Homo sapiens: one gene and its partners. Changing the gene in region 3 together with the main gene of any one other region gives a genetic interaction. Each region holds a gene or a part of one and is shown on either strand. Other genes may lie near its edges.

Evidence for each region. A genetic interaction does not mean that the proteins touch.
Region 1: changes in ALK (region 3) and NPY4R together harm fitness less than expected from each alone (positive genetic interaction), as found in Homo sapiens cells (one large-scale study listed by BioGRID).
Region 2: changes in ALK (region 3) and LARS2 together harm fitness less than expected from each alone (positive genetic interaction), as found in Homo sapiens cells (one large-scale study listed by BioGRID).

Annotation. Positions count from the first base shown.
Region 1 is NC_000010.11:46,463,159-46,467,400, forward strand, and holds the start of NPY4R (neuropeptide Y receptor type 4), read right to left. Parts: upstream 2,801-4,242; 5' UTR 2,520-2,800; intron 1,575-2,519; exon of another isoform or gene 728-1,574; 5' UTR 572-727; intron 1-571.
Region 2 is NC_000003.12:45,493,076-45,496,575, forward strand, and holds part of LARS2 (leucine--tRNA ligase, mitochondrial), read left to right. Parts: intron 1-2,168; exon of another isoform or gene 2,169-2,425; intron 2,426-3,199; coding exon 3,200-3,298; intron 3,299-3,500.
Region 3 is NC_000002.12:29,911,587-29,915,086, forward strand, and holds part of ALK (ALK tyrosine kinase receptor isoform 1 precursor), read right to left. Parts: intron 1-3,500. UniProt on the Homo sapiens protein: Neuronal receptor tyrosine kinase that is essentially and transiently expressed in specific regions of the central and peripheral nervous systems and plays an important role in the genesis and differentiation of the nervous system.

The DNA.
Region 1 (4,242 bases), on a different chromosome or scaffold from region 3:
CAGGGAACATGGGTAGAATGCCCCTTGTCACATTTTATCTTAATGGAGACAGCAATAAATGCCACTCTGCACAGGATTGCTTGTGTCCTTCCACGGCACCCCATTCCCTTCAAGATAGAGCTAAAGCCTCGGGGATCCACAATCAGTGCACCCTCCTGGTCTCAGCCCCTCCCTGCCCTGGTAGCCTTGTTTTTTAGGTGATACCTGGCAAAACTGAAGACTGCCCAGTATGCAAAGCCTGGCTCATCAGCACACCAGCTTCTTCCTACTACCCACCATGTGCACAGACATACCTGGCCAAAGTCACAGGTGCCCAGTGCCCTCCACAGAACCTACTCCATGACTATGTTCAAGTCACTTGATGCAGTGTGCAGCTCACAAGCACACCAGACTCTTCCACATCTCTATGCCCTGGTACAGGCTGTCCCTTCTCCGAGGACCTCCTCAGCACAACGGACCCCCTGCCAAGACTGAGTTGGAATTTAGACTCCAGAGTTCCCCCGTGTTAGTGCCAATGATGGATGTTTTGCATGGGAAGCACCATACCACTACATACATCATTGTGACTCACCTCTCAGATTCTCTAGTCATTATTAATCCCACAGGGTTGCAGTTCTCAACCTTCAGTAAACATCAGAATCATTCTAGAAGCATGTTGAAAGTGCAGATCCCAGGGCCCTTCCACCAGGAGATGTAGTTAAGTGAATCCAGGATGGGGGCCAGGAATCTGTATTTAACAAGTAGACTATGTGATTCTGATGCACATGGCCCTTGGACCCCATCTTGTAAAACACTATAGCAGAAAACCCTATTTGAGATATTCTTTAAGTCTCATATCATGGCCATATGTATTTTTTACATGATCAATTGCTATGTTAAGGCAGTTTTTGCAGAGCACAAGGCCAAAATCAACCAGAGCTCAGTAAAATCTATTTGTCGGCTGTCATGAATGTCACTTGCTGTGCATCTGATCTACTTATAAAGATGAGTTTCTAAGGTCAGGACTTCAACACCTGCCTGGCCAACATGGTGAAACCCCGTCTCCGCTGAAAATACAAAAATTAGCCAAGTGTGGTGGTGCATGCCTGTAGTCCCAGCTACATGGGAGGGTGAAGCAGGAGAATCACTTGAACCTGGGAGGCGGAGGTTGCAGTCAGCAGAGAGTGCACCACTGCACTCCAGCCTGGGCAACAGAGCGAGACTCTGTCTCAAAAAAAAAAAAAAGAGTCTCATTTGGTCATTTAAAAGATCAAGCTGTGAATTCACCTGATAGTTTACAGTCTGGTTATTTAGGAACCAGATCTCGAAGGCAGGAAGATTTCTCCAGCACTATGGTCTTCGGGCAAAAAGGGCCATTTGGGGCTGAACATGGCAAAATAAACTATTCCAGAGCCAAACACAGGGCCCAATATAAGATAAAGAACAGTCGCAGCTGCATGAACCTGTGGCAGAGGCACTGCACTCAGAAGCAGCAAATGGGCCAGAACCCAAGGCTCTGGGTGACCATCAGCAAGGCTTGGCCAGTGGTGTGGAGAAACACCATTCATCCCAAACCAACCACCTAAAGCAGGATCAGAGTGGAAGGACTGGGCTGGGAGGGCTCCAGAAAATGCTCACTGCTTCATTCACCCACTCAATAAGTGTGTGTCAAGCCCTGGGCTAGAAACAAGGGCTGCAAAGATGACTTATACAGTCATGGCCCTCCCAGAGCAGAGGGGCTGACCAGCACGAATGCAGATGGAACTCATTGCCATTGCCAACACCAATATGAAAGAGAGGCCTGTGAGTTGAGAGATCAGAGAAGGAGCAGGGAGCAGGGAGGTGAGAGAAGAGGTGGCAATGGTACAGGGCTCAAAGGCTGAAGAGGAGTCAACCAGCCAAAGGGACAGGGAGAGGAGGGAACTCGAAGTGCAAGGAACAGCATGTGCAAAGGCACAGAGGCAGGAAGGAGCAGAGCCTGCTGGGAAAAGTAAGCAGAATAAGAGGTTCCAGGGTGGCAGATGATGAAGCTGGAGTGGTGGGCCAGACCAGCAAGGTCAGGTCCATTCCAGTAAGATCACTTGGATATAGAAAATGGATTGGCAGAGAGGGCCAAGACAGGAGGAGGAGGAGCACTGAAAAGGTGGTGTTGGGCATCTGCCTGGGGCTGCTGGGCTTGGGGTACACTGACCAGTGAGGACCAGGGGACCTCAAGTCCCTCAGGCACACCCAAGGGGGTGGCGAGTGTATGAGGGGGAGGGTAGATTATTACGCAAGGTCAATAAAATGGTGTCTCTGCATTTTGTCCCCAGGCAGCTCTCCAGATACAAAAACTAGAACCAGCTGCAAGCCCCAACAGGGACCCCCTGCAGCCTGCCTTCCCAGTCAATCAGAGGAAAATTAATGAATCATACACACAATGCTAATCTCCCAGTGGGGTTAGAATAGGGAAGGCCCTTTGCTTTGTCTCCTGAAATCTCAGCAAAAGCTACTATATCCTAATGCCCATAGCGCCCAGACACCTCAGATGCACCCCTTACCTCCTTGGCTTGCGGCTTACAGGGTGCGGATGGGGCCGCCCATGTCTCAGGTGAGGAGACTGAGGTCCACAGTGGGGGTAGGATGCTCCCCAGATCCAGTGTGACGCTCTGCGCCCCGGGCCAAGGGCAGGCAGCGCGCCCGGCTTCCCGGAGGGTTCGTACCGGGGCCCACTCGGCCCCGCCCCCGGCCGCACTCCTGTGCCCAGGGGGCACCAGGCGCGGGGCAGAGCCGCGCCTGCTTCACCTGCTCCTGCTGCCCCGATGCTGCCTGCGTGCGGAGTGGAGCGGCTGCTACGCTCCCGCCTGCGCCCGCCCAGCCTGCCCCTTGCGCCCGCCCACGAGAGGGCTCCAGCCGCCCGCCTGCCCCGGGACCCCAGCACTCGCCCTGGGGAGCCGCATCTTGAGCCCCCAAGGCCTGCCCGGAACTGCAGCCCTGCCTGCGTGTGTCTCTCACGCCCACCTCAACCCTGGATACAGGCAGGCTGGAGCTGCGCTGTCTTTCTCTCTTTCTTTCTTTCTTTCTTTCTTTCTTTCTTTCTTTCTTTCTTTCTTTCTTTCTTTCTTTCTTTCTTTCTTTCTTTCTTTCCTTTCTTTCTTTCTTTCTTTCTCTCTCTCTCTCTCTCTCCCTCCCTCCCCCTCCCTCTCTCCCTCCCTTTCTCTTTCTCCAGGAGTGTTTCTCTCTGTCTAGGGGTGTGTGCGTCTGCCTGTCTCTCTCTCTCTCTGCCTCAGTTTCCTCATCCATGAAATGGGTATAAAAAGACCTGCCTTTCATAAGTTCGTCCAGAAACATTACTTGCAGACCTCCTATGAGCCTGGCTCTCCTGCTGGGCACCAGAGCTGGACAAGACAGGCTCCCTGTCCTTGGTTCCTTCTGGAGCTCTCAGCCCTGGGGGAGAAGACAGACAGGGTACAAGGAAAGAGGGAAATAAATTATTACAGGGGGTGAGATGCTGTGAGCAAATGGGTTCGATAGGCCAGATGGATGGCACAGCCACGGCAAAAGCCCTGAGGCTGGGAGCATTCAGCCCCTGGAGACCAGGGGAGGGCAGTGTGGCTGAGAATGTCAGCCAGGGTGAGGGAAGGAGATGGGCATCCAGGGTGTGAGTGAAAACTCAGGGTGGGCCCTGGAAGTGGAGTGTCTTATCTCAGGCAGTCCCAAGGTTGTGGCGATGAGAATTCAATGAGAATGGTCACTTTCTCCTTTGGAGCTGAGATGCACATGACTTGGCTATAATGGAACAGCTTTGCTTACAAGGGCTGCTCCTGTTTTGAATACACTAGCTTATAATTCCCTGCCCCCCATCCCCACATGGCAAAGTCACATATGCGCTTAGAGAACCTCCTGAGAGTAACAGATCTGCTTCAAGAGCACCTCCTAAACACTGGACATACACACCTGTCCAGTGAACCTCCTGTGGCTCCCCATGGAAATGTCCCCATGAAGTCATGGCAGTGGTCCCTCTAGAATGGCAGCTGCCGTTTGTAGTGCAGAGACTCTGCAGACACTACCTTAGTTAATCATCACAACAGCTCTGAGAGGTGGGCATTTTTATTCCCATCGTGCTGATGAAGCAAAGTGACACTCAGTGGTTGAGCAACTTGCCCAAAGTCACTCAGCTAAGAAACAGCCAGATCCAGGATGCGAACCCACCTGCCAAGCCCCCAGGCCTCTGCTCACCATCGCTGTAGACTGGCACCTGTCATCTCTTCTTTCTGGACCATG
Region 2 (3,500 bases), on a different chromosome or scaffold from region 3:
TTGGTGTTGGGCAAGGCTCCCTGGATGATCTTTTTTTTTTTTGAGATGGAGTCTCGCTCTGTCGCCCAGGCTGGAGTGCGGTGGTGCAATCTCGGCTCACTGCCAGCTCCACCTCCCGCGTTCACACCATTATCCTGCCTCAGCCTCCCGAGTAGCTGGGACTACAGGTGCCCGCCACCAAGCCCGGCTAATTTTTTGTATTTTTAGTAGAGATGGGGTTTCACCGTGTTAGCCAGGATGATCTCCATCTCCTGACCTCGTGTTCTGCCCGCCTAGGCCTCCCAAAGTGCTGGGATTACAGGCGTGTGCCACCACGCCCAGCCCCTGGATGATCTTAATGAGCATCCAAGGCTGAGAGCTACTGAGCCAGTGTGGCCGAGCAAGGCAGCCCAGTGGTACAGACTACAGGCACCAGAGCCCACCAGATGTGGATTCCTTACCCTTGAACTACAAGACCTTGGACAAGGTTCTTAACCTCTCTGAATCCTAGTTACTCATCTGAAAAATGGGGATATGAGCAGTATCGGTCTCATAATCCCCAGGGCTACTGGGGATTAAATGAGATAATACTTCTGCGGTACTTGGCTCAGTTCCTACTACCCAGTATTATTATTATTACTATTGGAGCTAATCCTGATAACATTATCACCATTATCTATCACTTCTATCCCTCCTGCTTGCCACGTAGCTTCTTCCTTATCATCTAGTTTTTAGTATCAGCAATAAAACATGTTAGTTGCCTTCAAGTCCAACAAGACCATTAAAAAGGAAATCAGCATGGCAAATGTTAGCCAGCTGTTATTCCTTTTATAAATTGAGCCCGCATTTTCTCCCTCACTTGGACCTCACTTGCACAAGGTAAGTGAGGAAGATGAAGTAATCTTTATTTTCTAATTATTTCCCAAAGTAGTGTCTGTGTTCTGGTTGATTGCTCTCCAAATAAAAAGACCTGGCTTCAATTTAGAGGCGCACTGTTGAGATCAGCTTCTTAGAGCAGCCCTGGGTGGTAGGAAGCTGGGTTCCCCGAGGGCTCTCTCTGAAAAGCTTCTACTCTTAGAGACCACCACTGTTCTCATTGGGAGGTCCCCTGATTAAAATGCAGGGGGTCCCAAAGCCCTGCCAGATCTAGGGCGCCCATGCTCTCTGCTCAGCCACTGCATTTAACCAGCTGACGAGGGAGCTGGAGGACTATGTGGGGGACTGGCCATTTCCTTGGGTAATATTTGTAAAGCTGGTATGAACTACTTCACAAATGGAAGACAGAAATACAACCCTTCTTTTATTCTTAAATTAAAAATACACTCAAGCCCATACATGCTAAATTAGCAGAAGATTTATCAGTTCCTCTTGGGATTCCTCATCCCTTCTCCCCAAATTCTCCAATAACACCCAAAGACTTACACTGCCCAAAGCGCAATATTTGGAGGGGCGATGAGCTTCACATCCATGCCTTAGAAGGGAGAGCCTGCTATGGCTTCCCACTGCCACAGAAGGCCCTGTTGATAGCTGGTCCTACCCATCAGACAGAAGGTGCTGGTTCTCTGCTGATCCAGGCCTTGAGGAGTCTCCAAGGCAGCTAATCCCCGTCCTGTGCTAGGCTTGACTAAGGGCACCTTCTTTTGAGTTCCTAGGTAGTGTGGCTTTTGGCACCTGGTTCCTTCAGTCCCACAGGCCCACAACTCTAGGAATGTTCTTAAGAATGAGTGTAGCAGCTGGGCATGATGGCTCATGCCTGTGATCCCAGCACTTTGGGAGGCTGAGGCAGGCGGATCACTTGAGGTCAAGAGTTCGAGACCAGCCTGGCCAACATGGTGAAACCCTATCTCTACTAAAAATACAAAAATTAGCCGGGCATCATGGCATGCACCTGTAATCCCAGTTACTCAGGAGGCTGAGGCAGGAGAATTGCTTGAGCCTAGGAGGCAGAGGTTGCAGTGAGCTGAGATCGAGCCACTGCACTCCAGCCCAGGTGACAGAGCCAGACTCCATCTCAAAATAAAAATAATGAGTGTAACACTTGGGCCCTTGTGAGACCTTGGTCCTGCTGGACATGTCTGTCCCTAGGACAGGGATTCCTTTTTCTATGCAACCCTTCACATATCAAGGATCTCACTTTATTCTCTGTCTTGAACACCAGGGCTTTCTTCACTCTTCCATAAGGAACCTACCTTTAGGCAGTGGTCTCATGGTAGATATGTAATTAGCTTTGGAGGGGGGTCCTGATTTCTAGCATTTGCCAATTTCCGTGATGTACATACTCCCATCAGGGCCAGTTTCAAGCTACCAACTTGCCATCTTTTGTCACAGTGTTGTGAAGAGATGCCCCAATTGATTCTTACAGGCTGGCATGAGCTGGAGCAACCATTGCCTTTGGGGCTTCCAAGTTGGTTTGTCTTCCTCGAGTCATCCTGGTAGATTTCTGCACCTGTCACCCCAGAACAGAAGTAGAAGAAAAATCCAAGTTGATTTTCCACACATCTCCCTATATTTGGTTCTCATTTGTCTTCATGCATTGATTGGCTTCATAAGCATCATAAAGTAGGCATTGGCGAAGGCAATCTTGACATGCCTGGAACAGAAGTTAAGGCACAAAAGAGATACCTAATCCTGTCTTGTCCTTTTGGATGGTGAGGCTTTCTACCAGGTTAAATTCAGAGAAGTGGAAAATAAGGCTTTTAATTGTTGAAAATTGAAACTTTTATTTGTAAATAAATTTCTTTAAAACATCGCATACTATACAATATAAAAAGAGAGCTTTCCCTGAATTGTCTTTTCATATGTGGCTTTATTCTTTTTTTTTTTTGAGACAGAGTCTTGCTATGTCACCAGGGTGGAGTGCAATGGCACGATCTTGGCTCACTGCAACCTCCACCTCCCGGGTTCAAGCCATTCTCCTACCTCAGCCTCCCAAGTAGCTGGGACTACAGGCACACGCCACGACGCCCAGCTAATTGTTCGTATTTTTAGTAGAGATGGGGTTTCACCATGTTGGCCAGTATGGTCTCGATCTTTTGACCTCGTGATCCACCCACCTCAGCCTCCCAAAGTGCTGGGATTACAAGCGTGAGCCACCACACCCAGCCTGTGGCTTTATTCTTATGACATTTTAAATTCATACTTATAGCTCTCTCAAAAGCTGATGGAAAACTGCATTAAAATTTAAAAAGAAACCAATTGATGAATTTCATTTCTTTCTTAGGTGCAAGGGAGCAGCCAAGAGAGAGACAGACACGATGGATACCTTTGTTGATTCTGCTTGGTACTACTTCAGATACACTGACCCTCATAATCCACACAGGTAAAACGTCCCTGCTGATGTCTTTGAGCATTTGTCAGTGTGGCTCCTCCTAGAAGCAAAGACCAAGATGGAATTAGACATGCAAGAGATTTCTTGGGGGGAAATGCCTGTGCAGATTAAAGGGGAGAAGAGGAGGAGTGGGCAGAGAGTGCTCTTAGACCACGATGGAGCTGTGACAGGTGTGAAAGGAGAAGGGAAAGGA
Region 3 (3,500 bases):
AATTCGCTGACGGAACTGGCCAAGGGCCTCAGCTCACCTGAGTGGCAGAGGTGTGGACAGACTCAAAGCAGAATAACAAAGGCTTTGAGAACAAAGCAAAGGTTCAAACCACACCCAACTCAGACCAAACAATGTAATGTACAAAATTTGCAGGATACAATCTCAAATTACTCAACATAAAAGAAAAAAAATGACTAATTCTTAAGAGGAAAGATATCATATGCCAATAATAAGATCATCCAGATGTTGGAATTATCAAAGACGTGAAAGAAGCTGTTATGACCATGTCCCATAAGGTGAAAGTAAACACTCTGGAAAATGAATGGAAAGGTAGTTCTCATCAAGAAACAGAAGTCATTGTCAAATATGAAACATTTAAACTGGAAACTAAAATATCTAAAGTAAATAATTATATCAGAATGGAGATAACAGAGGAAAGAGTCAATCAACTTGAGGATAGGTCAATAGAAATTGTTCAATCTACAGAACAAAGAGAAAAATTTCAAAAAAAGAAATTAGCAGCGTCTCAAGAGCATGGGAGATCTAACAGGTGTGTAATCAGAGTCTCAGGAGAGGAATATATTGGTGCAGGAAAAAAAGGAGAAAATAATAATTGAAAAATCCCATTTGATGAAAGACATAAACTTATAGACTCAAGAGTCTCAAAAAACTACAAACAGGATAAAGTCAAATAAAACCATGCAGAGATACATCATAATCAAATTCTGAAAACCAAAAGCCAAGAAAAAAATATTGAAAGCAATTACAAAAAGGAACAACAATGTAATGGCAGATTGCTCATCACAAACTATGAAGGACACAGGAACAAAATAGTTAAAGTGTGGAAAGAAAGGAACTGTCAATGCATAATTCTGAACCTAGTAAAAATATCCTTCAGGAACTAAGAGAATTTATCGTCAATAGTCTTATTCTAATGGAAATGCAAAAAAAGACCTCTTTAGGCTGAAGGGAAATAATAAAATAGGAAATATTGAAACTTGAGGAAAAGGGAAGAGCAAAAGAAATGGTATATATCTGGATAGCTATAAAGGACTATTTTTCTATTTAAAAGTTATTTAAAACACGCATGACTGGCATATATATATATTTTATTTATAATACATATATAAATATACAGGCTTAGCAAGTTTAAGAGAGTTGTAGAAGATTGCAAAGCTAACAAAAGATAAAGAACATCATAGAATTCATGTCTTCGAGCTCCTAATCTAGTGTTCTCCTCACCACAGAACACTTACTTTACTTATCTGGGCTTAAAAGAGTCCTTTCCATGCTCACCCTCATGAACTCACATTCCAATGAAAACTAAATAAAAGATAAGTAGGGGTCAAAGAAAAATATAACCAATGGTTCAATCTATCCTCATTTCCTTTGGCTAGTTTCCTGATTTCTTTAAGCCTGCCTAGATTTCCCTTGTCCTCTAACTTCATACCTTTTTCATACCTTCCTTTAGCTTTATTCTTACTCTAAGGATTTCTGACTGCCTACCACTGCATGCACCTGTTGTTAGTCAGAAAGGTAAGGTGCAAGAAAAAAAAAAGACTCTTAAATAACCAAGGGATTGGGTGTATCTTCCCCAAGGGAGATCTTCTCTGCCCACTTTCTGGAATATGTACACCACAACACAAAGCGAATCTGATAGAATTTCCCTGGGAAAGGACCCAAGCTCAGAACAGCCAGCTGAAAAATTCATCACAAAATTTACTGAAGAAAAATAAGCTATTCTGAAAAATACAATTAATCAAAAAGCATACTGAAGAATGCCTCCAACCTCCTCCACTACCTCACCACCAGGCCAACACTCCCTGCTTACATCTTGACCTGTGTGAAAGAGCCCTGGTCATCACAAGGTTAAGAAACATTGGCCACACCCTAGACCACAGAGCAACACAATGGCTGTAAAGAAGAAGGACTCCTTGATAGCTTTATTCTCAGCTCTCTCCACATGATCCTAGACCTACAACCATCCTCACCCACACGCCTTATTTTTTATCTACTCCCAAGTAGAAATGATGTTCATGTGCATCTTTTGGAGGCAATGGCTCAGCTATGGTTCATAGAAACCACCATGTACAAAATGTTCTGTGGTTCTTAGCCTCTTTTTTTAGATTGAGGGATCTTCCTGAGGCAGCCTCCCACTCAAGTCCCTGGGTTATACGTCTCCAGGGAGTCTCAAAGTTTAACTGCTCTTAATGTGCTCAGGTCCATTAACCAGTTGGTAATTTACATTTCTCTCCATATTCTCCACTTGGCAATGAAGGGTGATGCTGAAAATACAGAAAGAACACATCTTCAGCTAATTAAAATAAAAGAGTTACCAGAGGCCAGTAGCCCAGTGCCTCTAGACCTGGACAGAGCACTCTCAGTTAAGAAACGTCTGCCATCTGAAAATGATTCCGCTGTAACATCTCTATCTTGTTCTTCCTCCATCTTAACTTTCATATTTTCATAAAGTTAAGCCTTGGTTTCCTTCTGTAGGAAAAAAGAACTGGATTGCGAATATGCTGGTGGACTCTTTGAACTGAATCCAAAGTCAAAAGGCTTACGAGAGGACATTAATTCATGGGGAGGAAGTAAATACCACACTTCAATCCTCCTTTCCATGCATATTTCTGAGAAAGTCGCCTTCCATGGTGAAATGGTAGAAACTACTACACTTATAACTCTCTTCATTTCCCATACATCCCACCTTTCATCTCTTAGGGGTAAGAAGCTAGTTGAATGGAGAACAACAGCATCACAACTGCTGCTGCCAAGATTGCCACACATGGCCACACATAGAGATTACAACTCCAGATGGCACCATTCAGACAGACTAAAATGTATATGGAACCCCTAGAGTTGCAGAGTGCACAGCCTGCATGACCAGATGCTGGAGTGCAGCTGTTGCTATTATATAAAAAAACAATAGTGGTTCATATTGATGAAGCACTTTATTTTGCATCAGGCATTGGGTTAAGGATTTGCACACATCATCTAATTTAATCCTCATGACAACACCTTGAACTATTACTATCCCCATTTAGGAACATTTAAGAACTATTATATCCCTATTTTTCTAATGATAAAGCTGGGCCTCAATGATTTCAAGGAATTTTTCCAAGCCCTGGCTATTGCCCACCAAATATTTGTTGCATGGTCTTCTAGCAAGGATACTGGAAATTTTTTCACCTATTGACATGTCTTGCTCTTTGTAATCTGCACTTGGAGATGATTCCCTTAGTGGAAAGAACTCTGACTTGAAGGAAAGGGGAACTGTGGTTCTAGTCAGTATGAAAGTTTCCAGGTGTATACCATTTTGTGCTATATGACCTGGAAAAATATGGTCTGGATTCCAGTTACTTCATTTACAAAATAAAGCAAACATTTGTCCTGCCTACCATAGGATTAATAAGTAATAATAAATGTGAACATGCTTTATAAATTGTAAAGTTCCAAATAACCATAACAGGACACTAATAATGATTATAAAGAAAGGCAAA